2 separate regions of the Homo sapiens genome follow, and region 2 is linked to region 1. Evidence: fine-mapped expression QTL. A gene starts in region 1. The other region holds a variant in brackets. All regions are shown on one strand. Distances are between the middles of the regions. Region 1 holds the start of TRABD-AS1 (TRABD antisense RNA 1). Region 2 overlaps PLXNB2 (plexin B2).

Region 1 (2,893 bases):
TCCTGAGCCCCCGGAGCGAAGGGGTGCCTGGGGCATCTTGGCCCTCTCTGGGCAGACAATGTGTGCACCTATGTGGAAGGCCAAGGACATGGGCTGTGGCCAGGCCTGTCCCGCTCAGGCCCCCTGCCCGGCGGCCGTCTGTGTGCGGGGCCTCCCTCCTGGCTGTCCAGGACACAGCCCGTGCAGCCCCAGCCTGGACCCAGGCCATCTCTGGTTGTGTCTGTGCCGACTCGGTGTTGAATCAAATCAGGTGTGCGTCAGGAGCCGGCTGTGTCCTTCCTGCCACACTCGGGGATTCATTCCTTAGAAACTGAAATAAATTCTAATTTTGGAAACTCCTGTTTTGTGACGTGTGAACATGGGGTTCAGGTAATGAAGGATCCCTGCCTCTTCCCCCGTGCTCCAGTGCAGCGGGTACTCGTGGCCCTGCCGGGGCCCTGGGGGAAGGAACCTGCCTGGTTTCCAGCAGAAGAGACAGAGTCGGGTCCCTCCATGCTGACCTGTGGGACCCTTCTCACCCACCAGGTGGGACGCAGGTGGCCTGCTGACACTCAAGACCCTCCATACCCAGTCCCACCAGATTCCAGAGTGTGGACCAGACTGAGCCAGACTGGGGCCCCAGGGGGTCGAGGAGACAGATCAGGAGGGCCCAGGGCCTGGGGAATGGGGAGGGGTAACACCTGCCAAGGAGGATGCTGGGAACGGGCGCCCAGAGCGGCCGGGGGGAGGGGGCTGCTGAAGAGGGAACGGTTGCTGTGGGCTGCAGAGGAGGGTTGGGCACGGGGACCTCACCACATTATCCCTCATCCAGTTACCTGCCCAACGCACGCGGAGGGTCCTGAGGGCTTCACCCGCAGCCCCAAAGGGGCAGAGCTGGGGTCACGCAGAGTCTCGGAAGCCCACGCTGTGGCCCCAGGAGAAGCTTCTGGATGTAGCTCCTGTATGTGAAGGGTGGGCTCGCGCCGCTGCCGGAATAAAGGGAAACCACAGGCAGGAGGGAGGCGCGTCCAGGATCCGCGGCCACCGGCCTCTCAGACAGTCCTCTGGGGCCGGGGCCGGAGGAGATGGAAAGCGGGGGCACCACAGACTCATCTGAACCCCCGCGTTCATTCGGACACACAGACCCCAAATTCCTCCCCCAGGGGTCGGGTCCCTCAAGCCAGCCGAAGACCCCGGTGCCCGCCCAGCCCTCCGGGAGGGTCTGCGCCTGCGGCCTCGCGGGGCCTCTCCGAGCCCGGGCGCTGTTCCATGGGCGGGGCACAGATCCAAGGCCCCTTCCCTCCTAGACGGCAGGCGAGGGGCCCGAGAGGCCGGAGGCCAGGGGACAAGGTCCCCGAGAGGCGGCGCGAGGCTCCGGCGGCCCAGAACCGCGGCGGGGTCCGGGTGGGGTCCCGGCCGCCCGTGGGGCGCGGGGCTAAGCCCCGGCCCGACCCGAACGGACGCGGGCCTCGGTCCCCGCTGCCGGCGCCGGTGCAGCCGAGGAAATCCGGGGCTGCCCGAGCGGGGTCGTCGCTGGCGGTCTCGGAGGCGTTCCCATCTGTCACCCCGTTCGCATCAGCGCGCGCCCCGTGACGCCGACAGCCACCCCGGACGCCTCCGACCCTCCGGCCGGGAGATGCGGATAGACGGACGAGGCAGCCAATTAGAGCCCGGCCAGACACCGCGACCCCTCCCCCCACCCGCCCCACTCTCGCCCACTGGCGATTGGGTTGCGGGACGCGCGGGGCGGGGCTTCCGGGCGGGGCAGGCTGGCTTCCGGCGGGAGCGGGGCCGCGGATGGCCGTATACAGGGCAGCGCTCGGGGCTTCGCTCGCGGCTGCCCGACTCTTGCCCCTCGGTCGCTGTTCCCCGTCGCCGGCGCCCCGCTCTACGTTGTCGGGCGCCGCCATGGAGCCCGCGCCTCGCTGGCTGGCGGGGCTGCGCTTCGACAACCGCGCCCTGCGCGCCCTGCCCGTGGAGGCGCCGCCGCCCGGTCCCGAGGGCGCCCCGTCCGCGCCGCGGCCCGTGCCCGGGGCCTGCTTCACCCGCGTGCAGCCCACCCCGCTGCGGCAGCCGCGCCTCGTGGCGCTGTCAGAGCCCGCGCTGGCGTTGCTGGGCCTGGGCGCGCCGCCCGCGCGCGAGGCCGAGGCCGAGGCCGCGCTGTTCTTCAGCGGCAACGCGCTCCTGCCGGGCGCCGAGCCCGCCGCGCACTGCTACTGCGGCCACCAATTCGGCCAGTTCGCCGGGCAGCTGGGCGACGGCGCCGCCATGTACCTGGGCGAGGTGTGCACGGCGACCGGCGAGCGCTGGGAGCTGCAGCTCAAGGGCGCCGGGCCCACGCCCTTCTCCAGGTGGGCCGGGGCGGGCGAGGGGCGCGGGTGGGTCCTCCCCGCCGGGGCGCCCCTTCCCTCCGCCCGGCGCGGTGTTGGGGGCGTCCGGCGGCTACTGCCAAGTGGGGCCTCCCCTGCACCCGCGGGAGCGCGGTGCTGGCAGCCGCCCGCGCCCTGTGCTTATCAACCCGCCGAGGACCTTGGAGTCAGCTCCACCAGGGACGCCGCTCATGTTTACCGACGTTCGCTGGGGCTCCAAACCCAGGGGCGGGAGCCGGGATGAGAGGTTAGGCTAACCCTAACCCTAACCCCGCAGGTCCCCAGCCTTCCTCCGATCGCTCGTGGGGCGGGCCGCTTCGTCCAGCAGCCTCGCTCTGCGACTGACTTCACGGAGGCCTGGCCCTGACTTCCCTGCGGGCAGCCCTTTTTAACCCCGAAGTGAGGTGGGCATCGTTTAGATTTCTGTGGGGGGGCACACAGGTGGTCTAATAAGGCAGGATCTGGGTCCAGATGCCGCCAGGCCCACCGGGGAGCCGTGCACGCGCCACCTGCCTCCTGTGTATAGACAGCGCTTGGGTCTGTTC
Region 2 (2,893 bases), 83 kb after region 1:
CCTCCGCCCTCCCGTCCCCGCCCACCCTGGCCCTGACCACACGGGGCTTCCAGGTGCATGTGTGGGTCTCGGTGGGCAAAGGGGCAACGCGGTGGGACGTGCTGAGCACGAGACTGTGCCGCAAGTGGGCGGGGGGCACACGGGGCCTGGTGAGCGTGGAGCCTCTGGTGTGCCCATCTGGGTTTCTAGGAGGAAGTGGATCTGGAGTGCAGTGGGGTTTTCCGGAGGCCGCCTCCCGCTGCACAGACCAGCCCCACCACATTCCTTTCAGCACAGTCAGCCAAGGGCACTGAGGAGGCAGCTGGGTGTGGGGAGCAGAGGGGGGCGGGGGGACACCAGCCTCACCTGGCAAAGCTTCGTAGCGGCTCGAAGGCTCGCAGTACGGGGTTTTCGCGGTAGGTGAAGAAGATGCCGGGGTTGGGCACGGGGGACCCCCCGTAGGAGACCTCCAGAAGCATCTGGCCCCGTGTCGCCTGGGGGCCAGTGACACACTGGAGCTGCGCCCCAAACTTCGTCCTGGGGGAGGGAGGGTGCTGGTCTGCATCAACCCCTCCCCCGGGACCAGCCCCAGCCCGACCAGGCTGGCCCCGCCATCCCCTCAGGGCCACTCAGGTCTCAGTAAGTGCCCCCCTCCATACCCAGGGCCAGGGCCAACCAGACTCAGCAGCTGGCGGTGACACCCACACTTTACACGGGACGCCGTTGAGGGTCACCCGCACGTCCTCCTGGGAGCCCGTGTCCAGGTGGGTGCCGTGGATGGTCAGTGTGGTGCCGCCCGCCTGCGGTCCCTGCTGCGGCTCCACACTGAGAGGCTTGGGCTGCTGAAAGAGCCGCAGGGGCACTCGGGTGAGGACGGGGCACAGGACGCCCTCGGTCCTGGGCTGGATGGTAACTGTCGTGGGGAGGCGGCGGGCAGAGCCCCTCCTCCCGGTCCTCCCGGGTTCGGCAGGTCCCCGAGGCCGGGTGCTTACTTGGAAGGTGAACTGGACATTGGGAGGCGAACGGCCCAGTTTCCCGAAGACGTCCACCTCGACACCCCCCGTGAAAGGCGTCTCCGCAGCCTCGATCACACACACGATCCTGGCGGGCGACAGGCAGTGTGGCCCAGGCACTCCCCGACCCACCCCACACCCTGACACCCTCACCCCCTCAGCCTCCCCACCCACCCAGTCACCCGGAACCCCAGCGTGGGTACTGACCCAGCTGACAGGGCCCAGACCAGGGCCGTCCACTCACCGGGTGGACACGGAGTAACGTTCCGGCTGAAAGGAGCAGTTCCGGCCGGCCACAGAGATCCTCTGGATGTCCCCTGCTTGGACGCCCAAATTGGACCCCAGGATGGTGATGCGGATGCCCCCACCCAGGGGGCCCGTCTCAGGCTGGATCTGAAACCACAGAGCCGGGTGAGCAGGGAGGGGCTCATGCCAGGGACGAGGGAAGGTGTAGGCCAGGCTTCGAGGGGCTCACCCTGGTGATGACGGG[C/T]GGCGGGCACTCGGAGGTGGTGTTGCACAGGGCCTCATACACGCACCTGCTCTGGCCCCCGCACCACGCACACCTGTAGTCGGGGTTAGCGGCCCGGCACAGGCTGCAGTCGCTGCGGCCAAAGGAGCAGTTGTAGAGGGTCACTGCGGGGAGAGCTGCCGTCAGTGGTCACCCCGTGCCTGCCCGCCCCCGACCTGCTCCCCACTGCGCCCACCTGTCCCCCCACCCACCGCCTTGTGCCCACCCGTCCCCTGCCCGCCCCCCACTGCGCCCGTGGCCCCCACCATGGAGCTTGCTGTCGATATTCTTGCCGTAAGACTTGACGTAGAGGTGCAGGGGCAGCGTCTCGTTGGCATCGTGGGACAGCTGGGGGACACGCAGGGGCACACTGCACTTCCTGCCCCCACAGAGGGGCGTGGGGCGGGGGTCACAAGGGCAGCCTCCCTGTGGCCACCGGGTCCCTTCCCAGCCAAGGGCAGCAGGGGAGGCCTTCAGGTGTCGGAAGTTCGGGAACCCCATGGACGCTGCTCTGTGCCACTCTGTCCCCAGGGAGGCAGAGGGCAGAGGGGGCTTCCCCAGCAGCACAGGGCATGGCGAGCCCCTGGCTGGGCTCTGGTCCCTGGGGTCTCCCTGCTGCCCCTCCCCTCACAGTCCTGAAGGTGACCCCCCACCCCACCCGGGGCCCTGGGGTCCAGCAGCCGAGCCGGCCTGCCCTGGAGCCGTACCTTTGGGGTCCGAAAGGCGAAGGTCCCAGATTCCTGCATGGTCACCGGCTCCATGAACTTGAGCAAGTCACTGCCCACGTGCAGGGAGGAACCCTGCAGACCATGCCGTCAGGACCCTGGACAGGCGGCTGTGGCACCCTGGCCCTCCTCCCAGAACCCCTGCAGCCCCTCCTCTGTGCCTACAGTGTGGGAGCCCTCTCCTCACCCCACACATGCCCGCCCCTCAGATTACCATGCCAGCTGACCCCTCGGCCACTCCTGAGCCCAAACACCTGTGTCTGCAGAAGCCTCTGAACGTCCTCTGTGGGTTTCCCACGGCCACCTCCACCACTCATCCACACCTGAGAACATCGCCCGGCCCACCTGACATCGTGGCCCCCACAGCTCCCTCCTCAGGAGGTGGCACTGGCCCCTCAATCTCCACACGCCTGCCTCCTCCACTGCCTCTCTTCAGGCCCATCCAAAGGCCCCCGAGTGCTGCCTCCTGGCCTCTGTCCCCGATAAATCCTGTGCCCTCTACCTCATGTGGGGGCCCCGAGTCGGGGGGCACGGGTGGAGCTCAGGCTTCCCACACACCCATCAGCACTGGCCGGCACCCCTCCCTCCGTACCTTAGCCTGCCTGTCACCAACCGGCACCCCCTCCCTCCGCACCTGAGCCTGCCTGTCACCGGCCGGCACCCCTCCC

Evidence for each region.
Region 2: its variant is fine-mapped to the expression of TRABD-AS1 in whole blood (TOPMed, PIP 0.91).

What each region holds. Positions count from the first base shown.
Region 1 is chr22:50,199,261-50,202,153 of GRCh38, forward strand. TRABD-AS1 (TRABD antisense RNA 1) reads right to left here and starts at 1,523. Exons shown (of 2, transcript NR_186698.1): 1 at 816-1,523; 2 at 1-68. TRABD (TraB domain containing) reads left to right here. Exons shown (of 10, transcript NM_001320485.2): 10 at 1-335. SELENOO (selenoprotein O) reads left to right here and starts at 1,751. Exons shown (of 9, transcript NM_031454.2): 1 at 1,751-2,330. The coding sequence starts at 1,777. RefSeq lists silencers at 1,071-2,010, 2,141-2,220 and an enhancer at 2,581-2,820.
Region 2 is chr22:50,282,366-50,285,258 of GRCh38, forward strand. It overlaps PLXNB2 (plexin B2), which reads right to left. Exons shown (of 37, transcript NM_012401.4): 12 at 2,208-2,300; 13 at 1,767-1,848; 14 at 1,468-1,625; 15 at 1,237-1,385; 16 at 972-1,080; 17 at 685-821; 18 at 346-516. Among named protein-coding and RNA genes, the nearest start is that of MAPK11, 13 kb to the left of the region's middle. RefSeq lists an enhancer at 1-951. The variant C/T (reference allele first, on the strand shown) is at 1,483.